Regions from separate parts of the Homo sapiens genome. Here all the other regions are linked to region 3. The links come from fine-mapping of genetic effects on gene expression. A gene starts in region 3. Each other region holds a variant in brackets. All regions are shown on one strand. Distances are between the middles of the regions.

Region 1 (5,103 bases), 240 kb before region 3:
TCAAATTCCTGAGCTCAGGTGATCTGCCTGCCTCGGCCTCCCAAAGTGCTGGGATTATGGGCCTGAGCCACCGTGTCCGACTGAAATTTGCATTTTCTACCTGCTCCCTCTGGAAATTCTTAAGTGTCTCGTGAAGGGAAGGCTTATACAAAATCATAAAAATGTAATTCTACTTGTAGCAAGTTCCCCCACAAAAGATCTAGCAGAATTTAAAGAAAGGTTATGTTTGGTCATTATTTCCTTTGAAGGAGAAATAGTTTTCTTATGTGATTCCATCTGCAAGGATTGTCAGATATCGGCAGTACTTCAGTAGTACAAAAATCAGGGATAATGTTGTTCTCCCAAGTATTAACTTACAAGGAAAGCGCTCAGAGCTTCATTTATTTTGGATACCAGAGCTAGATGAAGTGTTCCTAGTAAACGTCTCCAGAAGCACCCTTCCTCCCCCTTGGTGAGACATTTAGTTGTCAGTTTAGTCGTAATAGTGTCACGACAAGTTGCCAGTTTTTTTTTCCTTTGTTTGTTTGTTTTTTAAAGAGATGGGGGTCTCACTACATTGGCCAGGCTGGCCTCAAACTCCTGGATTCAAGCAATCCTCCCACCTCAGCCTTTGTCCCAGTAGCTGAGATTACAGGTGTGAACCACCACACCTGGCTTAGTTTTACTTTCTTAAGGTTAAACTCTCAAAAGTCCCACTGTTCCACTCCTGTTGTCTTGGGGTGGCTCCCAACTGTCCGTGGTTCAACTTCCAAGGCAAGGTTTCTGGGAAGCTGTCTTTTCATCACTTAAAGATTTAAACCTTCCTTTTTTTTTTTTTTTTTTTTTTCCGAGACAGGTTCTCACTCTATTACCCAGGCTGGAGTGCAGTGGCACAATCATGGCTTACTGTAGCCTCAACTTCCTGGGCCAAGGTGATTCTCCCATCTCAACCCCTAAGTAGCTGGCACTACAGTACATGCCACCACGCCCAGCTAATTTTTCTTTTGTAGAGATGAGATCTTGCTATATTGCCCAGGCTTGTCTCGAACTCCTGGACTCAAGTGATCTGCCTGACTGAGCCTCCCAAAGTGCTAAGATAATGGGTGTGAGCCACCACACCCACCTAGACTTCTCTTAAGCTGGAAAATAAGATCAGGAGTTGCCAACCCCATGCTGGTCTTACTTGGGAACCTTGCCCAAGCCTCCTGTCACAAATCCCTTTTATGGAGTTTGTGCCTCAATAAACTGCAGCTGTACCAATGGGCATAATCAGGCTTGTTTATATAGTATACCAGGATCCCAAGATAAAAGGCATTCTAAATGCCTAGTGTGATTAGAGCAAACAAGGTACCATCTAGCATTCATTACTTAGAGGTCAGATACATATCTTGTATCTGATAAAACAAGCACTCATTTTCTATTTCAAAATCTAGCATGAGAAATCAGAAGGGCAGCATGCAGACAGGGGGATTCATTTGCTCATTCATTTACATTCATGCCTTTCCTTTCTCAGATGGAACAAAGAAAATTCCCAGGCCCGGGAACCACCAGAGGTACTACCTTATTTGCTCAAAAGGTAGGTTATGCCCATAAGGGGCAGACCACGCATGGCTCTACCTCTCTCTCTCTCTCTACACACACACACACTCTCTCTCTCTCTCTCTCTCTCCTGCTTTTATTGTGCCATTTTGGATCTGTAGGAACTTGGGCTTGAAGAGCTACATGATCTGAAATTCAGCATGTATCAGCTAGTAGGTTTAGGTTATGTCCCGAGAGGGATGTGCCTCCAGGTGGCTGTGACCTCACTTTCACAGTTCATGCAGAGGAAAGTCATCCTTGTGGTCCTGGGAGAGCTGGTCTGTTGCTGCCCAGGTTTGCCTGCACTGCCAGCATGGCTCTCACAGCCCCCCAAATTGTTTTCCTCTGAAAGGTTCAAATCTTGACTCTGAAACAGACCTCATAATGAAACACCTATGGGAAAAGTCTATTCTCTGGCCTCTTTCCTGAGCTCAATAATGTTTAATTTTTAAAAGCGGGGGAGGGAGGGAGGGAAAGAAG[AAGT/T]CTCTGATATTTCTCCAGTGCACTTGGCTCTCATAGATGGCCTTGGCCAAAACTCACCACCAGCGATTGTGCCAGAACACCTGGTTTGAATTCTGGCTGCCATGCTGCTTCATTTAATGAGATGGTCCCAACTTACTTTACTATTTAAAAAGAATTTGAGGCCAGATGCAGTGGCTCATGCTTTTAATCTCAGCACTTTAGGAGGCCGAGGTGGGCTGATCATGAGGTCAGGAGATCGAGACCATTCTGGCCAACACGATGAAACCCTGTCTCTACTAAAAATACAAAAAATTAGCCGGGCGTGGTGGCGGGCGCCTGTAGTCCCAGCTACTTGGGAGGTTGAGGCAGGAGAATGGCGTGAACCCAGGAAGTGGAGCTTGCAGTGAGCCAAGATCATGCTACTGCACTCCAGCCTGGGCAACAGAGTGAGACTCCATTCTCAAAAAAAAAAAAAAAAAAAAAGTGTCCGGCTTCATCTCTCCTTTCTTGTCACTACACGTATCACCTAGTCACCCAGCAGTTGTACTCAGAGTCAAGGACTAGTGCTTCTGCACCTGAGAAGAAGCATCTCCGGCTACCCATCGGAAGAGCGCTTTGTCTAAGGAGGCCTCAAACTTCAGCCTCCCGACTTGCAATCTGAGTCAGGAGCCAAGCTGTGCAAGTGGACAAGCGCCCTCGGAAGATGCTGTCTCCCTGTCGGAGCCAACTGGCGCACTCACCCTCCCTGCTCAGCTCAATCCATCAGCGTGTGCTGCCACTGCCGTAAGTCAATCGGCTCGGGGCGGACAGCTATCAGAGATGAAACAGGGACAAGGAAAAGAGCTTAATGGAATTTTATTTTGAAAATATGGCAAGAGTCTAAGGCACTTCAAACATTTAAATACATAGAGGACCAAAGTAAATGTGACACGGTAAAAAGGAATCCATAAATACAAAGAGAACACTGTGTTTCTCTAGAGGCAAATACAGAGCCGATTCCTCTAACACAATCCAACCTTTAGCATTGGAGTTGTGCAATTAATACAAATGATGATGTTACGTGTAGTTCTTCATGGCTTTAGTATGGAATACAAAAGCTGAAAATACTGTGTCAAGTTCATATAGATACCCTTTTTATAAAAAGTCATATATTACATCTACCTAGTTAAGACCAAATGAGAATATTCTTTTGTAAGTTTTATACTTTGTCTGGCCCAGGCCCAAGTTACCAATGATCAAAGTCATCTCGACTTCCTTATTTTAAAATAAGACAAAAGAAAAATCCAAAACTATGCTGGAATGAGATTTTGGAAGAACTTTCTAATGGTTCCACATTTAGTACATATAAATATTTGTGGAAAAATCTTAAAACGTCTCAGTGAGAACCAGACACCACTTTGTGGGAGTGAACAGAAGGTGCCCCTTCAGATCAGAATTCCCTGTGACTGTACAAAACGGAGCAGAGACTCAACAGCAACAGAGACTGGGTTAAAGTGTGCCCTACACAGAAGACGGCCAGAAAGGAGGTGTGTGTGCCCAGGCTAGCAGTCTCTGCACTGTGAAAGCTTCAGCCTTTACCCCTGGGCTTGATGCTTCTGTTTGCTGGTGAGCTCAGGCACAATACGTATACATTCAGTATCTGTCACCCCAACAGGAACAATTAGCAGCTTAATAGTGGCATGTAAATAAAGGGCTATTTGCATACAATCAATCAAATGAACCTCGGTGGGTGGGGCCAGGAGACGTCTTCCTTCCAAGCCTAGGGGTGCCCTAGAGACCAGGAAAGGAAAAAAACTGGGGGTTAATAAGTGACCTCAGGCAGATGTGTACCCTGTGACATAGGATCTTGGCCCACCACAGGCAACAAGCAGCTGTGAGCCCGAGCCAGGAGAGCTCTGGCTGAGAACAGGGAACAGGTGTCCACAGCTCCAAGGCCAGCTGGGCTCAGCAGTGCTATGTCCGGCTGTCCTGGGAAGTCACCTTCCCACTCAGAGTGAACTGTGGACTACAGGCTGCCTGCCATCTGCTTCAGGAACAATGCCAGAACCATGGCGAAATATCCCCATGGGCTCAGGGGCTGCTATCTGGATAATTCTGCACAGAATCAAAACCTCTATGGGAAGCTGTGAGCATATGTCTTGCAAGGACAAGCAAGGTCCAGCCTCTGCTAAAACATTAGTTCTCCTGCTTTTTGCGGGGTGGAGGCGGAAAGGATGAACTCTTAAGCTCCAGACTAAAACTTCCATTTTCTGAATCAACATAAAATCTGTCTCCCGTCAATTCCTGGAGGAAGGGGGTCCACCAGTCTGGTGGATTTCAGCCTATTTACAAATGCCAAATGCACAACACTGACCGGAGACTGGGCTTTTGCAAAGTTGACATGGGCATACAGAAGAACAGCGATGTCCTTGTGTCCTGCTTCCAGGGCGATTGAGAGCGCAGTGCTGCCATCCTTAAGATAAGATGGAAAGAACAAGCCATGTTGGGTTTCTCAAACCTCCAGACAACCGAAAGGTAACAGAACAAAACACCCTCCAATAATTGGCAAGGTTCCCCAAATATCCCTACTCGTTCGGTCTTCTGGGAAACTTTTTTGGGACCTCTAAGGGTGAAGGCCTGAGGATGTGAAGATGAATGAGGCAAGCCTCCACCCTCCAGAGGTCCCAGTTAAGAGGATTATCTTACTCAACCATTCTGCCCACCAGGAGGGGGAAGCAGAAGATGGGGATAGAAAGTTTTTTTTTCTTCTAATTAATTATGAATGACCAGGCAAGCAGCAGTAGTGTGTGTTTAGAGACTCTGCAATTTGCCAAAGATCTTTTACCTTTCCTCTTAGAGAGGGCACTGTGATCCTAAAACCCTAAACCACCTCGGTTTAAGGCTACAAGTAACATCTGTGTGTAAGCACGCAATCCCAGTGGGTTGCACAGATCCAACTTCTGGAAATAAGAGGGGAAACACTACATATGGGTGAAAAAAGCTTCACTTAACTGCTTGATTTCCATTAAATTTCAGGGATTTAAATGGATATAAAGGAGTATCAAGGGAAAGAACAACACAACTTGTCTTCTGTCTAGTGTGTTT
Region 2 (5,103 bases), 210 kb before region 3:
AGTCTATTTTAATCATTGCCCCATCAGACACTAATAGAAAGACTGGAATTTCTGTGGATGGCTTAAGTCTGTATCACACATTTTCATGTAAAATTAATCTAATGCACACTCTTTCCCAGGTCACACTGATTCATGAGAATTGGAGAGCCAGAAACGGAAGCCAGGCAGTGTGGTCCTAAGCTGAGGATGATGTTATACACTGTGAGAGGCAGTGCACATGGTCACAAGCAAAATCAGGTTGGTAAGGCTCACAGGGAATTACTGTAAGCCATAAAATCATCCAGGGTGGCTTTCTGATTATTAGCTTCAATTTCAAGAAGGAAGAGTGAGCAGGAATCCCAATGAATACGAGAAAGAATAAGACAGACAAAAATGTAAGCGCCTATCGGGCCAGGTGTGGTGGCTCATGTCTGTAATCCCAGCACTTTGGGAGGCCGAGGTGGGTAGATCACCTGAGGTCAGGAGTTCAAGATCAGCCTGACCAATGTGGTGAAACCCTATCTCTACTAAAATACAAAAGTGGCTGGGCATAGTGGTGGGCACCTGTAGTCCCAGCTACTCAGGAGGTTGAGACACAAGAATCGCTTGTACCTGAGAGGCAGAGGTTGCAGTGAGCCGAGATGGCACCACCACCCTCCAGCCTGGGTGACAGAGCGACTCTGTCTCAAAAAAAAAAAAAAAAAATGAGTGGGAAAAGACTCCCTTCTCTCCAAGTTTGACCACCTCATCTCAAACAGCCCTCACCCTGACCACTACCACTCGCTGTTCCCATAACCGGAGTTAATTTCTTCACAGTATTTATCGCCTCCTGACATGTTATAGGTCTACTGTCTATATCCTGCACCCCACCTAGAATGTAAGCACCGCAGGGACAGGGGCTCTGTTCTGTTTTGTTCACACTATCTTCACAGCCTATAGCTTGAGACAGAGTAGGAATCCAAGTAATAATGATTTTTACTTCATATTTTTTTAGAAATGGAGGTCTTACTATGTTGCCCAGGCTGGTCTCAAATTTCTGGGCTCTAGCAATCCTCCCGCCTCAGCCTCTAGAGTAGCTGGGACTACGGATGTGTACCATTGCACCTGGCTCAAATTCAATAATTATTTGCTGAATTAAAGAATGAATTAATGGAGTCTCTCCTCTCATAAACGTTTTAACTGAAAACATTTTATGCCAGTATTTCAATTGCTAATATACTGGTAATAGTGGGTACAAACAGGGTAGGATTTTTTAAAGGCAGTTCTATAAATAATGAGCAAGTAAATAACTGAAAGACAAAGAATAAAGCATCTTACCAAACTAGCAGCCCCAGAAGACAACCTCTAGGCCAGCCAACACCAGTTTACTTTTCTTCCAGCGTTAGTCCTCAGCCAGAGGCCAGTGAGGCTACCAGATAATAAGCATCAGCAGAGGTGCTTATGGATTTTGATTCTTAGTTTTCATTCTACAGATTACCACTCTAAAACTTTCTCCATTTCTCCTCCAAAAATGGTTCCAGCAGTTAAAAAATAATCCTTAGCTTCTGGAAAGACATTTTCCCCCATCCTTCCTCATTCCCAGGTCCTCAGGGTACCACCTACCTGTGATTTTACCCAGACTGGTTTTCTGGAAGTCAGGGTTCCTCAGCTCTTCAGTGCTTGCAGATTTCATGACAGAGTTGATAGACGACAGGGTGCTGATGAGCTGAGAGTTGAGGGAGCCCATCTGTGAGTGAGGTTCCCCGAAAGCTTCTGCCAGTTCACTGTAGTTCTCAGCCAGCAGTGTCTGCTGTTCTGCCAGCAGCTTCTGGATACGCTCAATGTAGTGATCCAGGCCAGTCATCATTCCAAGTGGAGCTTGAGGCTGGGGGTTCTCCAGAGATTCCCCTACAGGGTCATCCCCAACCCCCACGCTCCTTCTGCTGGCTGTCAGCCCCACAGTCAACTGTGGTGGCCCACAAGCTATAGTCCTCATTTTGAGACCAACCAGATAGTTGTCGTTAATATTTATCTGCCCCACACCTGACTCTTTGGTCTTCACAGCTGATGGCCTGTCAAACCCAGAATGGCCAGAAAGCAACGTTCCAACACCAATGGACCGCGTCTTGGTGGAGGAGTTGATGTCCTTGACACGGCCTTCTCCTACAGCTACTGTCCGCGTCTCCACAGTCTGGGTGCTGGTCTGCTTGTCCAAAGTGCTTAGACAAGTGTTGGTGCAGGACTCTATGAGGGTGGCCGTCTCGGTGTTGGTGAACTGGTGCACCTGTTCCAAATCTGTGCTAGTGTCCTGGTCTGCAGTACGAGGCACTGCCATGACGGCAGCTTCCACCTGGCTAACAGCCTCAGTGTTCACGCCCCGGGAGGCGCACTCCTTTGGAGAGCAGACGGTCACGTCAACAGAACAATCTCCACAACCGATAGACCGCACTTCTTTGAGATTCAAGTTTGTCTTGAGGAGTGTGAGGTCGTTCACAGACTCCTCTGTGTTGCTGCCTGTTTCGCAGACGCTGACTTCCACACTCACACTCTTGTCACACATTTCCACAGACCTCCCAGCACATCGGTCATGCATTTCCACCCTCTCCTTAACAATCCACCAATTCATAGGCAGCTCAGGCCCTACGACTTTATTCTTACATTCAGGCTGGCAGGAGATGCCTACACTGTTTGTTTCCACGGAGGTCCCAACACACGTGTCCACCAGGTCCATGTGACTGCCGACCATTTGGTCTCTGGTCTGCACCACTGCCTCCACCACCTTACTGAAAACAAGCGGCTGGGCCATCGTGGCTTTGTCAACCTTTTTCCTCGATCCAGCAGCCTGCAGCTCTTGTTTCAGTTTAGTCATCTCCCGGTCATGGGTGGTTTCTCTAAGCTGTACTTCTAGGCGATAGATCTTTTCCTTCAAGGATTCTATGGTCTGCTGTTG[C/G]AGCTCAATTTCTTTGTCAGCTTCAGTCATCACTCCAAGCATGGCCTCTGTCACGCTGACCCCACAATTTCTCATCTCAACAAGTGTCCCTACAGCTGCATCCTTACAGGACCTGGAGCCTCTGTGGTACACGACGATGTCGTTCATGTTCTCCTCGGCACCCACAGCCACAGACCGGCACTCTCCATTCTCCCTGAGCTCTGAGGAGGCCTCACAGCTGCTGTCCTGGATCTTCTGCTCCAGGGCTTGCATGTCTGCTGTAAGTTGCCGGAACTCCTTTATCCTCTGCGTGCTCTGTTCTACGGTCTCCATTTCTTCCTCCTCATAGTCAATGTATAATTCCCCGCCACTTCTTCGGGCCCGGGAGAGCTGTTCCAGCTGGGAGGCGTTCCCCGCACTATAGGACCGCTTCCTCACACCACAGACATTGATCTGGGATGCAGCCCTTTGGTTTTTCAGCTGTGAGACCAACTGCCTTTTCTCTTCTTGCAAGACAGAGATCTTTACCTGGAGCACAGGGATGGTTCGCACCTGCTCCTCCAGCTCCTTCAGGCGTTTCAGAGCAATGGCCATCTGCTCGCGGATGTGCTGCAGGTGCATGGGGCTCACGTTGGTCACTGGGGTGGAGATCCCTGAGCTCAGGGGGCTGTGGCGGATGGAGCTCCCCATGGAGGAAGTGGTGGGAGCAGCTGGGGCATAGCTACCATAATCCCCATTACCTTGGTATCCATTCTGAAGCTGGTGCTTGGCAGGATTGTGGTTTCCAGAACCCACAAAAGAAGGGAGGGAGCTTGTGGTGCCCATGCCTCCAAAACTGGCCAGCCTGGGCCTTCTGAACTCACCCGGTGTCATCTGCATGGTGGCTCTCTCCTGTTCCAGTCTTCTCCGGGTCTCCATCAGTGTCTTGGTGACATGAAGGTTATGCTTTGGGAGTTGTGGTGAGGGAGGTGGCAGCTGTCGATTTTCTGGGATGGTAAGAAAAGGGAGTGAGGTCTCCAGAGGGGGAGGTGGCTTTGAGATTGGAGTTGATGTAACTTGACTTCTGGCTATGAGGAAGTTGGGGCACTGCTTGTTGTCATCACTGTTGGAGGATGAGAGGGATTCAGTGGAAGTCCATATACCTTGCTGACCAGATGTGGTCCTGGGTTCTGGGCATGGCACGGACGGCTTCCGCCTCTTCTGGATGTTCAGTCTTTTGATGGTATTTCCCTTCTGTATGTCATCCACATATTTGAGGAAATCTAAGTCTAGTTGATAACCATAGGGGGTCTCCACAAAGTAAGGGTCTTTCTGTTCCTTGTCCTGGTCTCCACTGAGAATATCACCTGCTTTTCCTAGAAGAGGGAGAAAAGAATATTATAATGACATGCAATACACCTAATGGTAAAAACTAATATTTGTGTTTGTTGCAGTACAGCAAGCTGGTATGATTTTAAGAGTTGACACACCTATGTTTTGAACCTGGATCTACAACAGCTGGGTAAGCAAGTTTTTTTTGTTTTTTTTTGTTTTTTTTTTTTTTGAGACAGGTCATTCTGTCACCCAGGCTGGAGCTGCAATGGCATGATCTCGGTTCACTGCAGCCTCCGTCTCCTGGGATCAAGCAATTCTCCTACCTCAGCCTCCTGAGTTGCTGGGATTACAGGGGTGCACCACCACGCCTGGCTAATTTTTACACTTTTAGTAGAGACAGGGTTTCACCATGTTGGCCAGGCTGGTCTCGAACTCCTGACCTTAGGTGATCCACCCAACCTGGCCTCCCAAAGTGCTGGGATTACAGGCGTGAGCCACTGCGCCCGGCTTGGGTAAGCAAGTTAATAAACCTCTCTTAACTTCAGTTTCTCCCTGAGTAAAAATGGAGATGCAAATATTTAACTCACAGGCTTAAAAACAATGTAATGAGATAATGATTGTATTATTTTTTAAAACTGTATGTTAGATTCAGGGAGTACATGTGCAGGCTTGTTACAAGGATATATTGTGTAATGATGAGCTTTGAGCTTCTAGTGTACACATCACCCAAATAGTGCACACCGTACTCAATAGGTAATTTTTCAACCCTCACTCCCCTCTTTCCCCACTTTTGTAGTCTAAAATGTCTACTATTTCCATCTTTTTCCATCTTTATGTCCATCAGTACTCAGAGATAATGATTAAGAGACAAGCACATAGTAAGTCCTTACTAAATATTTTTA
Region 3 (5,103 bases):
GGTTGCAGTGAGCTGATACTGTGACATTGCACTGTAGCCTGGCTGACAAGAGCAAAACTCCGTCGGCAGGGCTGGGGGTGTGGGATATGTATACCTATGGTACAGCTCATCTTGTTTTGAGAGAGGATATTGCTCGGTCATCTAGGCTGGAGTGCAGTGGCATGATCATAGTTCACTGCAGCCTCAAACTCCTGGGCTAAAGCAATCCTCCTGCCTCAGCCTCCCAAGTAGCTGGGACTACAGGTGCATGTGCCACCATATCCGGTTATTTTTTATTTTTTTTGTAGAGACGGAGTCTCGCTATGTCAATGTTCTAAATTACCAAAAAAAAAAAAAAAAGATGGCATAAGCTGTCACCCATGCAACAGGCCTAAAACTTCCCGAAACACTTGAAAACAAGTTGACTTTTCTTATTGAAGGGTGAGTGAGAAGTGTAGTGGATGTTGCATAATTTGGATAGCTTCAACTCTCCTTACTAAAAATGATTTTTAAAACATGCACACATTATCCAACAAAAAGCCCGAGTGAAGTGTCCAACTTTTCACAGACCCACTCTGCTCTTTCAGAATCTGCTCACCCTATAGTTATTCCATCTCAACAGTCCTCAGCTCCCACAAGCACTGCCCCTTTCGGCCATTATCCCATTCCTCTTCCCAGTTCCTTGCACTGCCCCCAACTAGATCCTTTTCCATCCTCCTCCTCCCACTTGGGATAAAAAGTTAATGTATGCACACATTAACTCAGAACTATTTGTGAACTGATACTCATGAAATGAAACTAGTCTTGAATGTATCAATTCCAGTGGCCATTTGCCTGTGGTTTTTTGGTTTCTTTCTTTGGGGCCAGTTTGGATATTTTAAAAAATTACTTTTAAGCCTAGTCTTTTTTCCTTCTAACATTCCCTGCCGAGCGCGCACGCACACGCACACACACACACACACACACCCAGAACTCACTTTCGCTGAGGCAGAACCTCGACTAGAGTGATTTATGGACTAGGCAAGTCTAGAGCCCAGAAAGCATCCCTGTGCCCTAAGGGGATAAAATGTATTCCCAACTTGTGGGTCTCTACAGGAGGCAATTATTCCTCTACTGGCAGCTTCTCTTCCATCCTTATTCATTTTAACCTCCCCATAGGACAGCCAATACTTAATTTTTCTTCCATTGCTTCAGCAGCACCTTTCCCCAAACCTAGTAACAGAAAAAGGATCAAAGTTAATCACCTCTCAGTTTTCTCACTCAGTCTCTATCTTAGAAAAACTTCCTAAGTAGCTGCCTTAAAATGAGGGAGAAGGGCTGGGAGATGGAAGAATGACTGCTAATCGGTATAGGGGTTCTTTTTGGGGGCAACGAAATGGAATCAGATGGTAGTGATGATTTCATAACTTTACGGATATATTAAAAACCACTGAATTTTGACCTTAGAAGAGTAAATTTATATGTTTATTACACTTCAATTTTTTTTAAATAAAACGTGCTCAACATTTTAGTAGAGAAAGTTGGATGAAAGGAGAAACTGGCAGATGAACAGCTACTTAGCTGTTAACGCCACCTAAAAATGAACTTGAATAAACTCAGGAATTCAATATAAGCAAACAGACCCTCATTTCCATTCAGCTCCAGAGGTGGGGGGCAATGACGGTGAGGAAAGGAACTGCACGATTACACATCTGGATGATTAAGCTTCCTTATTAGCCTCGGGTATCAGGGTCTAATAGAATCCACTATTTAATAAGATGGGCTGACCCTCCGCAGAGGCCACGTGCGGAAAGCGAGCGCTGGCGGACGCCATAAATTGTTAACGCCAACTCGCCCAAGGCCTTCACTAGGTCACGCTCGTGCAGCACGGCTCGTGCTGACCCGCAAGAGCCACCAAGAACAGTTGCCTCTGAAAGTTCCACGGGACCCGGGTGAAGGAGATGAACGGTCAAGGAGCCGTGGCTGCCGCGAGCGCCACTGCGTGTTGCCCAAAGCGGCACAGAAAACGCAACATTCGGGGACCAGCCCGCTTCAGGGCCCCTACACCTTCCCTCGACCTGGAACCGCGGGACCTCGGAAACCCACGCTGCCCGCGCCGGGTTGGGCCGCCCCAGAGGCCGCAGCGCCCACGCCCCTCCCCCGCCTCCCCGCCCTCCAGCCCCGGCCGAAGCCACCTCGGAGTTGGCGGAGGGCGACCCGAGGCCACCTGCCCCTCTGGGGCCGAGGATAAAGGGGTCTTGACCGCCACTCCCTCCCGCGAAGGGCAACATCCAACTCCACGGAGAGCCGCTTCAGAGAGGGTCCCCCGTTCCGCCCCGGGCTAGGGAAGGGCCCAGAGGCATCCGAGGGACAGAGCGCCGGGCCGGGGTAGCCAGGCGCCCGCACCCTCCCGCCGGCCGGCCCGGCCCGAACTTTCTCGCTGCTCCGTGCCCGGCGCGCCTCTCCCTCCTCCAGACCGGCCGAGCGCCGCCGCTGCAGAGCGCGCCAAACTCCGACGGCCGCGGGGCCGACGCCACCTCTCGGACCCCCCCCCAGGACCGCCCCGAGGCCGCCGGGTTCACCCGCACGAGCGGGAGCCCGCGGGGGCTGCCCTCCGCCACCGCCACGGCCGCCGCGCAACCCCGGCGCGCGCCAAGTCGGCTCCGCGCGGGGCCAGCCCGAGGCAGGGGTAGGGGCCTCGCGCTCCGGGACAACCTCGCCGCGGCACGGGGCGCGGCACGGCCCCGCCGCGTCACTCACCTTCGGCCGCTCCTCCCAACCTGCCGGCCGCTCGCTCGCTCCGCCGCGGACCCGGAGCTCGGGGAAGGGCGGGGCGCAGGGGGCGGAGTCGGCCCCGGCTGGCAAGCGCCAGAATTAAAGCCCGAACCGCACGGCCGCCGCCGGGGCGGGGAAGCCGGGGCGGACCAGCAAGCCTCTCACCCGCGGTGGGCGACAGCTGTGGCTGCGCCCCGGAGCGGCGCGTGAGAAGAACGGCGCGGGCCGGCGAAGCCCCGGCTGCTCCCTCCGCCCAGAGGACGCCCGGCTCCCCGCGGGGGCGCTCTTTGTACCGCGGAGCCGGCCGCGGGCGGCCCTCAGTGCGCCTGCGCGCCGCTGCAACTCCACCAGGCCCGCGGGGCACCTTCGTGCACCTTCGTCGCCGCGCCTGGCCCGCGGGCCTCGCCGCGGCGAGAACTAAGCAGAAGAACTTCCTCCACCGCGGTTCGCTCCTTCTGCCAACCCGTATTTACCACGTCCATCCTCGCACACACACCCGCAAGGGGAGAAGAAATCCAGCCCCCGTGAGACGGTGCGGTGCTCCCATCTCCGGCTGGGGCGGGGGTTCTGGCAACGAGGCTGGCCTGCTCGACGTCCTCCCCCAGCGCCTCTGTACCTCCTCTCCCTCCCCGGGTGAGGGGGACCGGAGCGTGCAGAGCTCTGTTTCCTGCAGGTGCCTCGTCAGCACGGTCGCCCCGGCGGCCAGAAACCTCCCGCCTCCAAGGGCACCTCCCTTGTGACCTCCGTGCATTCGCCCTGGCTCGGCTGCAGGACAGAGTCCTCGGCGGAAAGGGGAGGATGCGTGTTCAGAAGGTTGCAGGTCTCTGGGGACTCCACAGAAGACCCAACGCCTGCCTCGGGGGCTCAGGATTGAACTGGCTTCCTAGTTCAGTCCCAAATACTCGATTTGGAGCAATCCAGTAGGTCCATGAGAAATTAGTAGGGATTGAGAAGCTGTGACTTCAGTCTTTTTCAAATTGAAGGTGGCTTGAACAAACAGAAGAGGAGCTTGGGAACTGAAGGGACGACTTTATAAAAACCAGGTATTACTCAAAAAACAATGTTAGCTCTGCAGTCAACTGATTTTCTTAAGGGAGAGAGTCCTCCCCTCACCCCCAAGCTCTCTAGCACCGCACACATCCAGCAGGGCGTTACACACGCTCAGTCTTTTTTGTGAGTGTGCAAGTGAAGAGCCATCAAACTTCACAAGGCGACATGCTTGCCTCTGGGGAGAAGACGCTGCTTTTCCACAGTTCACAGCGAAGCACACCTGCAAATTCCTGAACTTGATGGCTCCTGACTGTTTAGGGAATAGGCAAAGGGCAGCCGGAAGATATGTGAAGGCAGGAAAGCTCATTTTGAATCTCAGCGCCTTTGCCAGCTCACTGGGTGGCAGTAAGCAAACTCTTTCCTCCTCCTGGGCCTTGCTTTTTCGTCTGTAGAGTAGGGCATTTGGATGCAGTAGATATTTTCTAAAATCCCCCACCACCACCACCCCGCCCCAAATGTCTACTCTTCTATGAAAAGGAGAATTGTTTGCATGGTGATAAGGGATGAGATATCAGAGGCAGGAAGACTCCTGCATTTTAAAAGTGCTCGTCGGCCAGGCGCAGTGGCTCAGGCCTATAATCCTCACACTTTGGGAGGCCGAGACAGGTAGATCAGTTGACCCCAGGAGTTCTGGGCAATACAGTGAAATTCTGTTTTCACCAAAAAAAAAAAAAAAAAAAAAAAAAAATCAGCTGGGCGCGATGGCGCGCGCCTGTAGTCCCAGCTACTCTGGAGGCTAAGGTAGGAGGATCGCCTGAGCCCTGGAGGTCGAGGCGGCAGTGAGCAGAGATTGAGCCACTGCATTCTAGTCCAGGCTACAGAGTGTGACCCTGTCTCAAAAATAAATAAATAAATAGTGCCCTCGACCGGGTGCACTGGCTCACACCTATAATCCCAGCACTTTGTGAGGCCGAGATGGGTGGATCACTTGAGGCCAGGAGTTCAACACCGGCCTGGCCAACATGGTGAAACCCCATGTCTACTAAAAAATACAAAAAAATTCGCTGGGCGTGGTGACGTGCACCTGTAATCCCAGCTACTCGGGAGGCTGAGGCAGGAGAATCCTTGAACCCGGGAAGCTGAGGTTGCAGTGAGCCGAGATCATGCCACTGCACTTTGGCCTGGGCGACAGAGCACGACTCTAAGAAAAAAAAAAAAAAAGTGCTCTCCATCCCCAGAATTCCCAGCCTTCACCTCTCCTTTATTTCTCCCTCTTTGCATTTAGTCAGTAAACATTGATAGGCCCTCAAGAGTAAGCAAAACGAATCAATCAAAAGTATGGCAGATTCTGAATTTTTAGTGGATTTATACTTGAAATTT
Region 4 (5,094 bases), 31 kb after region 3:
TGTGGTGGCAGGCACCTGTAATCCCAGCTACTCGGGAGGCTGAGGTAGGAGAATGGCTTGAACCCAGGAGGCAGAGGTTGCAGTGAGCTGAGATGGCGACGCTACACTCCAGCCTGGGCAACAGAGTGAGACTCTGTTTCAAAAATAAATAAATAAATAAATAATTTTAAAAAGGTGCTAGACTCTTAATCTCTTCAGATGGGAGCGCCTGGAAGAAAAATATCTAGCTATGTTAACAGAGATTCTTTACAGATGCAAATTTTCCCCTACAAAGGATGGCTTTGCAGGGCCATTTCAAAATATGCCAAAGAGACATGTTATGGGATAAAATATTTTGATTTTGTCATGTAATATTATGCCAGAGTCAGACTAAAAAGTCACAATATATAGGGTTAAATAAAACCCATCTGATGAGAATTTTTGGTTTGTAGGGCATAACTCCCCAGACCCCCTAGATAGGAATTTGGAAGATAAGAAAAGATCAGAGCTTAGTCCTCAAGCAGGAGTGAAAATTTATTAAAAAGCTTCAGAGCAGGAATGAAAGGAAGTAGAGTATATTTGGAAGAGGGCCGAGTGGGCACCTTGTGAGATCAAGTGCACAGTTTGACCTTTGACTTGCGGTCTTACAGGTTGGCATACTTTCGGGGTCTTGGGTTACTTCTCCCAATTCTTCCCTTGGGGTGGGCTGTCCATATGTGCAGTGGCCTGCTAGCATTTGGGAGGGGAGCATGCACAGTGTATTTGCTGGAATGGTACAGATGCTTTCTTGAGGCTTTCTTCCCTTACCAGCGTAGCATTCCTACAGGAAGGTCATTTACCAATTAAACTCCGCCACTTTGCCTCTTAGTGCACATGCTTGAGCCCACCTGCCCAATTCCTGAGATCTTATTGTGAAGCTGCTGATTGTCACTTTCAGGTTTTTCCTATCTATTTGGAGACTGCCTTTCCCTGGTGCTGGCTGCAACCAGTTATTATTTGAGAGAGACGGTGTAACAACCATGTGACCATCACCTGATGGTCACCTGACATTCCTGGTCAGGGTGGGGGGCCCTCTCCTGCACTGCACATGTCTGCCTATCTACTGTAACAAGTACACCATCAGATGATTGCTAAGGTTTCTCCCAGTGTGAGGAGTCCTGAGAAAATGGTATTCTCAGAGATACTGAAGTGTCCTCAGGGAAAGTCTAGATGGCCTAGACAGCTTGTGGTGCTCCATTGTCACCCTGCCACCAATGTCTCCCTGCCTTTTCTCATCCTCTGATCTCCCCCTGCTCAACCCCATTTCAGGGGAGGAGGGAAGAAATATAGAAAAGATAATGAGGGAAAGTGGCCATGGGTAGTGAGAGGATGATGAAGTGGTAGATAATGGGAGAGTGGAGGGAAGGCATAGAAATTACACACATATACTTTTTTAGAGAAACGACACAGGGAAAAGATAGGGGGCATCAAAGAAAGAACATTTGCCTTCTTTTGTTCATCAAATAAAATAATCGCTGACATTTATTGAGCCCTTGTCCTAGGCCTGGCACCTTGTTCAGTTTTTCACATGCATCATTTCATTTAGCCCTCATACATCTCATTTTATAGATAAGTGAGAAACATACTTATGCAATTAATCAATATGTCCAATATCACTAATTAGTAAGAGACAGGACAAGGCATTGAACTTCAGCATCTTTGACCCCTGAGCTTGTACTTATAAATACTAGTCCATATGGCTTTCCTACCAGCATTTCCTCTGAGCCAGGGAATGTCACTATTTTCCTTATGGCCAACAGCATTTAGACTCAATGTCATTGCTGACCTACAGTGATGTGTTCATCACCATGGGCAGACAGATAGGCAGGTACCTATCCATACACTCACTCACCCACTGATGACACTCAGGAAGGCTTGGTAAAGACAAGTAAAGCCAATGAATATTATAAATAGATAGTATTTCTTGTGAGGAGCCATCATGTGGGGAAAGCTTCTTCATTAACTCTGGCTGAGTCTAATGTTGAAATTAATTCTTGGCTGGCACACTGGCTCACACCTATAATCCCAGAACTTTGGGAGGCCGAGGTGGGCAGATCACAAGGTCAAGAGATCGAGACCATCCTGGCCAACATGGTGAAACCCTGTCTCTACTAAAAATACAAAAATTAGCTAGGTGTGGTGGCACATGCCTGCAGTCCCAGCTACTCAGGAGGCTGAGGCAGGAGAATCACTTGAACCATGGAGGCAGAGGTTGCAGTGAGCTGAGATTGTGCCACTGCATTCCACCCTGGTGACAGAGAGAGACTCTGTCTCAAAAAAAAAAAAAAAATTCTTGTTCTTTCTGGGTGCAAGATAGTTCCTGAACACATACCCAGATGATCACAGGTGCCTGTGGTTTGTTGGGGGATGATATACACTAAAATAAGTGGTGAATACCCATAGCTAACCATAGCAAATTTTCTCAGTATTATACCTATCAGAAAACCCAAGTAAGCCTCATTGTAGGATAACTCTAGGTGACCCTCTAGGGATTATGGTTGATGATCACAGAGCTGTGATGTCATGATGTCCCATTAGGGGTCTTTCACCTGGTTATCATTTCTCTGCCTGATACTTCAACTGCAAATTTATGAGGAAATTTAGGAAAGACTGAATCAGACCCCTATCCAATAGTCTCCAAGCTGTGTGCACTTTCCTTGGATTTTCCTCTGTTTCAATGCAGGGATATTACATGGGTTTTGGAATCAGTCAGACTCACGTTCAAATTCTGTCTCTGCTATTTACTGAGTGAGGAGCAGTGGTACGAATCCCTTGTCCTTGGAACTGCTGTATTCTCTCCTGTAGAAAGGAATTATGAAAGGTGTTGTGAGGATCAGGTGAGCTGGCACATGCAATGCACCAACACAGGGCCTGGAATATGGTGGGTGACCACTCACTGCAAACTCTTATTCTTCATGCTTCAGTTACCTATTGCTATATAAAATCTCAACCCAGGCCTTAGCGGCCCCCATGACTATACCCGTTTGTCATGAAGAGCTTTAGTGAGCTTTACTTGAATAACAACCGTTTGTTTGCTCATAGTTTTGTAATCTGAGCTGGGTTCTTCTACTGGTCTCACCTAGGGTAGTTCATGCTCTCATGCTGACCATTAGGAGGCTGAATTGGGGCCAGAAATCCAA[G/C]ATAGCATCACTCATGTATCAGGAAGCCTGGCTGTCATGCCTGCACCAGCTCGGATCAAGCCTCTGCTTGGTATAGGGCTCTGTTGTCACCGCCTTAAAATTCGGAATAATTTTAAAACAAGGAAACCTGCATTTCCTTTTACACTAATCCCTGCAAATTGTGTAACCAGTCCTTGCAGCTGGATCTCTTTCTATACTAGCTCAGGGCTCCAAGGGAGTGAAAGCAAAAGCTGGCAGGCTTAAGACCAAGGCTAGAACTTGTACAGTATCACTTTGCCGCATTCTATGGGCCAAAGTAATTCACAAGGCCATGCCTGATTCAAGAGGAGGAGTGGGAAAATCTTTATGGCCTACACTTGACCTCCATTTCCTACTTTCAGCATTTGCAGCAACTGGGTCAGCAACTGGGTCCTGAGAGAGCTCTTCTGGTGCTAAGAAGCAGACACCTCCCCAAGTGACCTCACAAAAAGAGGAATATATGGCAGAGGGTTGGAAATCTCTCAGAAATGAGGCATAACCCCATCTTAGGAAAGTGGAAAGAGTTAGAAACTCAGAGTCTGAGGCTACGCCTTGCTTCTCAGTGGTGACATTGACTTCCTTGGTCAGTCATGGCTTGAGGGGAGGTCAGGGAAACTGGTCACTCAGAAGAGACAACTGCCCCTTACAGAGACTGTGGGCAGGCCAGCTCTCTATAAGAGGCTGTGAATAAGGTAGGGTGTATTCCCTGATAGAAAAGTTTTTTTATCAGCCATTTATGAAGCACCAATAATTATATGTAAGAGTGTTTTGGCGTATGGGGATGTGACTCTGGGAGAGCAGGGCTCTTTTTTGTCAGTCACATAAGGGTATATCTCTTTAATTGAAGTTGGGGTTGGGGGCAGGGGAATAATCGGAGGTTTATTCTTACTGTCCTTGTGCTCGGGGAGTCAGCCGCAGTCCCTGGTGACCGGCTCACATATCCTCATGTGGCTAGCAACACCCACCTACCATGGCAGTACAGGAGAACGCTTAACTCACTGTAATCTCCAATGCCTAAGTGCAAACGATTCTCTCGCCTCAGCCTCCGAAGTAGCTAGGACTACAAGTATGCACCACCATGCCTGGCTAATTTCTTTTACAGAGATGGAGGTCTTGCTATGTTGCCTAGGTTTCGAACCCCTGGCCTCAATCAAGCCTCCCACTTTGGCCTCCCAGAACCCTGGGATTGCAGGGGTGAGCCACCGCATCTGGCAGAGAATGCATTCTTTTACAAAAATGCCAACTCACCTCAAAGAAAAGTTGAGTGAAGAAGGATGAGAAATTGTGACTTTATCTTATTTACTTTGGTCCTGCTCCAAGGAAGATGACAGACTGAGGCCCGCATAAGGAGGGAGTCCCACATGGACTTGGGAGTGTCATCACCATCTCCTTGGGGCATGCAGAGAGCGGTCACCATCTCTTGACCTCTCTCCTCAGCATGCTCCCCACTTCCCTACTCTACTTCCTTGTGGTTTCCTTCCTTTGTGCCCTCAGTCTAGTGTCCTTACCCCTGTCCTGGAGACCCCATCTCTTTTCTCCAGTACATAGTGCCCCTCCTCGGTCCCTTCCTGCACATTCCACTCAGCTGGCACTATCGCTTTCCTTGGCCCAGCTTCGCCAGCTCTGAAAAAGCAAGGGGTGAGGTGCAGTCCATCAGATGGAAGAGATGATATAATTGATGATCAGATCCAGGGCAGGTGCCCAGCAGTAACAACTGTGGCAAATTTCTACATAAGCTAGCTGAGAAACAAGCTAATAGAATGAGCTTATTTCCCAGTGACAATGCAATCTAGTGTTCTATGACCGGCTCCTTGCAAAACAATAACCCTGGCATTATGACAAGATTCACATTAACTGTGCAGGGCCCTGTCTTGACTACCCAGGTGGCTAGCACCTACTTGGATAAGAATGTCCTGAG
Region 5 (5,103 bases), 100 kb before region 3:
TAATCCCAGCACCCTGGGAGGCCGAGACTGGCGGATCACAAGGTCAGGAGATCGAGACCATCCTGGCTAACACGGTGAAACCCCATCTCTACTAAACATACAAAAAATTAGCCGGGTGTGGTGGCATGCGCCTGTAATCCCAGCTACTCAGGAGGCTGAGGCAGGAAAATCGGTTGAACCCGGGAGGCGGAGGTTGCAGTGAGCTGAGACTGCACCGCTGCACTCCAGCCTGGGCAACAGAGAAAGACTTTGTCTCCAAAAAAAAGAGTTAGATGGTCAAGGTGATGAAGATTACAAAAATATTACTGGGAAGATAAACTATCAAAAATGCCTGCAAAATAGAATGACACTGTCATTTGACAGTCAGATAATTAGTGTCAAAGGTTCTGAATTTTAGACACACTCCTATCTAATGGGATCGACATACCTATGTTATTAAGAAGTGAAGTGAAATGTAACTTCCTCAGTGGCTTGTTTGGATTCAGCTTCTGTGCAAGGAGCAGGCACTAAGACACATCTGAAAAGCATGAGAGACAGAGGACATGGGCCTTAAGGTTTTTATTCCAAGTTCAATCATTACTTGAGTCCTGTACTTTTTTCTATGTCCTACACTGAATCCTGGAGATAAGTGTAGTCATCCAAGCTTACACATTGGAAATTAAGGCATAGAGTCGGTGAGGAACTGGCCCCGTGGGCTGGGCTCTTGGTTCAGTGACAATTGTCTGTGACTTACTAAAAGATTCTTTAGTTTGCCTGTTGTTTTTAGTAGAAAGCTGTGGGCTGGACCCAATACTAACAAATGGAACTCAGGGGGCTGACAGCGACATCTCTGAAGGCCAAAAAACCTCCTCACATGTCAAGCCAACCGTCCCTTCAGGTCTTGGGGATGGAGATAGGGCTGGCAGGTGGAGTGATAAGGTAACCTAATTATAATAATGCCAGAGTAATAAAGTGAGTGACAACATAAAGGATACAGAAGATGCCTTCTGTCAGAGACAAAGAATTCAAAAACAATCAAATAAAACCACCAAACAGGAGAATACCATTTCATTCTTCTTCTACGGGACTGGGGACGATGTTAACCATTTATAAACAGCACTCTTGCGTACTGGCCTCTTTCCCTTTGCCCAGTCTCAGTTCCCAGAAAAATAACCACAAACATGATCTCTGCCTCTGGGTCTAGAAGATGAAATCAAGTCTCAAAGATACTCAGGTCACAGATGTGCAAGTCTAAAGCTGTCTCAACTAACCCTCCGAGCTTTCCAAGGCTAGCTATGCCTCCAGTTCCTGGAATGTACAATTCTTCTCTTATCTACAAGGATTCTTCAATGGCCCTTAAACCCAGGAAAGCTGGAAACTGCAGGTTGTAGCCATGTCTTGATCAGAGTCAAGGGGGCATGGACATCATTTAACATTACCTGACGCAGCAGAGGGTACTCGGTCAAACCAGCTGCTATATTAAACCAACACTGGACACCTCTATGGCTTATCCACAGAGGGAACTGTCAGGATTCTATTTCTTAAATCATGTATCTAAACCAGTACTTTATTTTTTCACCCATATAGTACACCATTATCACTTCCATATCACTCAATTCTTCAGGACTATCTTTTCTCATTATATATAACATTTGCTTAAGGTCTCATCATGGTTCACTTTGGAGAGCAGGACTGAAGTTCAGTGAGAATGTTTTTTCATCTTATATACTTCTAATATTCTAATTTATTAGGATAATTGTGTTACTTTTGTAAAGAGTTTTTGATAAACGTAAGTGTTCAACCAAATTAAAATGTATTCATACCTTTAATCTAGTTATTCCTGTGAACTTATCGCAAGGAAGTAACTTATTATGGCCTGAAGATTTCACTGCAATGATACTTAAAGTAGCAAAGAATTAGACACGATCTAAATTTTAAACATGAGAAAGTCAGTTTTATAAATTATTGTACATTAATGTAACAGT[A/G]TTTATCATTATAATTGTAAAGGCTTCATAAATGAGTGGAAAGTCCTGACACCTCAAGTAAAACAAGCATTCCAAATAAAAATCAAACCACATAAATATATGTATAAGAAAGATAAAAACATTTCTATGTGAGAGTGGTACAATTCTACGTAATTTGAAATTTTAAAAATTTTCTTTAGTGAATAAATATAAAATACTTACTAGAAAGTAGCCTGAGAAAAAATAATTTTGCCATAGTTCCAAACTATGATATTAACCAAATTAAGATACTTCTCCTTTATTTAGAATTAACTTTAAAGGGAATAAAAGAAGTACCAATAGATTAAAAGGCAAAATATGTTAGCAGGATCAATGTCTATTGAGTCTATTCATTATTTTATTTTATTTATTTATTTTTTGGGACAGCGTCTCACTCTTGTCACCCAGGCTGGAGTACAGTGGAGCGATCTCAGCTCATTGCAACCTCCACCTCCTGGGGTTCAAATGATTCTCCTGTCTCAGCCCTTTGAGTAGCCGGGACTAAGGGTGCACGCCACCACACCCAGCTAATTTTTTGTATTTTTAGTAGAGATGGGGTTTCACCATGTTGGCCAGGCTGGTTTTGAACTCCTGACCTCAGGTGATCCGCCCTCCTCGGCCTCCCAAAGTGCTGGGATTACAGGCGTGAGCCACGATGCCCAGCCTATTGATTCTATTTAAAAAGGACTTGTAGCTAGCAATAAAGTTTAAGGAATTCCCAAAGAACTGTTAAGCAAATCTATTTAATTTACAAACAATAAACTTATAAAATGTTTTCTAAATTAAAATAATATAGTGGCATTATAAAAACACCACTGCAATTAGCAGTTTAATAATGTGGTAAATAATACTAGGTAAAGCCAATTGCTATTTATGGACAATCTTTTTTTTTTTCAGCCAGCTTTCTGAAGGGTTAGGGGTCAAGTCTTCTTCCCTTTGAGTTCTGAGAACATGAAGATTTTCAACGATCTTGCAGGAGTTCAAGTCCCAAAGGGTAACTGAACAAGGAAGGATATCAGCAGTGACCCCGAAAGCTAACAACAAGCGTGAGTATACGCCCATGTGTTATTTCCCATGCTTCCATCCAAGAAAATGCTCTATTGAAGCAATGTGTATGAATGCATCTATTATGCATGTCACCATGGCCTTATCCCACTCAGTCTCAACATTGGCTTAGTTCACCTCCCTTGGAAACACTCTGGACCATCAACTGGGGTGGAGGTTGTTAAGTAACTCTGTGAGTTGCCTTCATCTAGGTAGCTCTTCAGGTGTGGTTCGTCAGCCACACCCTAATAACTGACAACCTTTGTGAACAATTTTTCAATTCTGTTTATCTCCCTGACTTGATGAAAGACAGACTGACCAAATCAGTCAGTCGTGATGATGTCCTGATGATGGCATTCCTCCCGAAGTGACTAGAGAGAGAGCCCACTCTTGTAAACTTCAACTACCTTGACAGTTCCCACATGTAAATGCCCTAAAGTCAATCATCTTCATCTCACATGCTCTGAAACAATGATCTTTTCTTATAGGTAACATTGGCCAACATTAGATATAAAGAATTTTTAAAAAATGATTTCTTTTAGCTCTTTAAGAGAATACACAAATATTGATAAAGGAGAGTTGGTCTATGGTCACGTAGAATGTGCTATACAACAAATGAAACTTATTGTTATAATTCTGAAAGTTTTCACGCCTGTAATCCCAGCACTTTGGGAGGCCGAGGCGGGTGGATCATGAGGTCAGGAGATCGAGACCATCCTGGCTAACAAGGTGAAACCCCGTCTCTACTAAAAATACAAAAAATTAGCCGGGCGCGGTGGCGGGCGCCTGTAGTCCCAGCTACTCGGGAGGCTGAGGCAGGAGAATGGCGTGAACCCGGGAAGCGGAGCTTGCAGTGAGCCGAGATTGCGCCACTGCAGTCCGCAGTCCGGCCTGGGCGACAGAGCGAGACTCCGTCTCAAAAAAAAAAAAAATAATAATAATAATAATAATAATTCTGAAAGTTTTTTAGTCTTTCCTTCAAAGATTCCATGGTACTAGATAAATTATACACATACACACACACAGAGAGATGTTCACAAGGAAAAATGAACATTACAATACAACCAGGTAAAGGTACCAAGAACATGAAAGGAGGTTGCTAAGGTGCTTCCAAAAGATTGGCCTAATTTTACCACCACATCCATTTCGGCGCTTTTTTTCTTTGCCTAAAATCGTTACCACACCATATTATTTCCTCCCAGCATAGTAAGTTAGGAGAACAAGGAAATGGGAAGAAACTACAGAGGTTCTTACAGCCCTGCCAGCAAAGTTTCCTAGCACTCTGCTGCTGGGCTGGGTGAAGAGAACAAGGCTAGCCGTCCTGGACTGGGTGAGGCACATGTGCAGGTATGTGCAGCTAGTCCTGGACTTGGGCAGGAGCAGGAATCTGCACAAGAACCAACAAGCCCACAGGAGAGGTACTCAACTGAAACAGTGTTTAACAAGCATAGCCATCTCCTTTTTTTTTTTTTTTTTTTTTTTGAGATGGAGTCTTGCTGTAACGCCCAGGCTGGAGTGCAATGGCACGATCTTGGCTCACTGCAACCTCTGCTTCCCGGATTCAAGCGATTCTCCTGCCTCACCGTCCCAAATAGCTGGGACTACAGGTGTGCGTCGCCACACCAGCTAATTTTTGTATTTATAGTAGAGACGGGTTCTCACCATATTGGCCAGGCTGGTCTTGAACTTCTGACCTCAAGTGATCCACCCGCCTTGGCCTCCCAAAATGCTGGGATTACAGGCATAAGTCACTGCCCCTTGCTAACCATCTGCTTTCAAGTGGATTTTGATATGCCAAAGTTTACCTTAGTGCCACTCTGAATGACCTAACAAGCATGCAAAGGAATTGAGGAAGGTGAAAGAGAGTGACACTGTATTAATTACTAGTCTAAGACCCTGTTTTAAAGAATAACCCAAGAAAACATAAAATTAGAATTCAAGTCCCAGTCCCACAGTTTTCCGTGGGCATAAAATACTTAAAAAAATAAAAATGTGAACGGGCAACTACACTTCACTAGTTTCCTCTTAGTTTTTAAGCCAACTCAGTAGCCTGCCTTATCTCATTCTAAACCTTCTG

What was found. PIP is the estimated chance that this variant, and not a neighbour inherited with it, causes the effect.
Region 1: its variant is fine-mapped to the expression of KANK1 in thyroid (GTEx, PIP 0.97).
Region 2: its variant is fine-mapped to the expression of KANK1 in fibroblasts (GTEx, PIP 0.96).
Region 4: its variant is fine-mapped to the expression of KANK1 in whole blood (TOPMed, PIP 0.97).
Region 5: its variant is fine-mapped to the expression of KANK1 in whole blood (TOPMed, PIP 0.94).

The regions. Positions count from the first base shown.
Region 1 is chr9:743,859-748,961 of GRCh38, reverse strand. KANK1 (KN motif and ankyrin repeat domains 1) reads right to left here. Exons shown (of 12, transcript NM_015158.5): 11 at 4,373-4,471; 12 at 2,859-3,789. The coding sequence ends at 3,727. LOC124902109 (a long non-coding RNA gene) reads left to right here. Exons shown (of 4, transcript XR_007061394.1): 4 at 1,493-1,713. Among named protein-coding and RNA genes, the nearest start is that of KANK1-AS1, 61 kb to the right of the region's middle. The variant AAGT/T (reference allele first, on the strand shown) is at 2,038.
Region 2 is chr9:709,943-715,045 of GRCh38, reverse strand. KANK1 (KN motif and ankyrin repeat domains 1) reads right to left here. Exons shown (of 12, transcript NM_015158.5): 3 at 1,582-4,242. It overlaps LOC107987042 (phosphatidylinositol 4,5-bisphosphate 5-phosphatase A-like), which reads left to right and starts at 4,404. Exons shown (of 1, transcript XM_017015393.3): 1 at 4,404-5,103. The variant C/G (reference allele first, on the strand shown) is at 2,909.
Region 3 is chr9:502,370-507,472 of GRCh38, reverse strand. KANK1 (KN motif and ankyrin repeat domains 1) reads right to left here and starts at 2,778. Exons shown (of 12, transcript NM_015158.5): 1 at 2,719-2,778. It overlaps LOC105375947 (translation initiation factor IF-2-like), which reads left to right and starts at 1,920. Exons shown (of 4, transcript XM_047424276.1): 1 at 1,920-2,213; 2 at 2,304-2,534; 3 at 2,652-3,776. The coding sequence starts at 1,920. The coding sequence ends at 3,473. RefSeq lists a silencer at 2,653-3,142.
Region 4 is chr9:470,917-476,010 of GRCh38, reverse strand. It overlaps a transcript of KANK1 not described here. Among named protein-coding and RNA genes, the nearest start is that of DOCK8-AS2, 3.3 kb to the right of the region's middle. The variant G/C (reference allele first, on the strand shown) is at 3,159.
Region 5 is chr9:606,890-611,992 of GRCh38, reverse strand. All of the region lies in intron 1 of KANK1 (KN motif and ankyrin repeat domains 1), which reads right to left. Among named protein-coding and RNA genes, the nearest start is that of KANK1-AS1, 76 kb to the left of the region's middle. The variant A/G (reference allele first, on the strand shown) is at 1,965.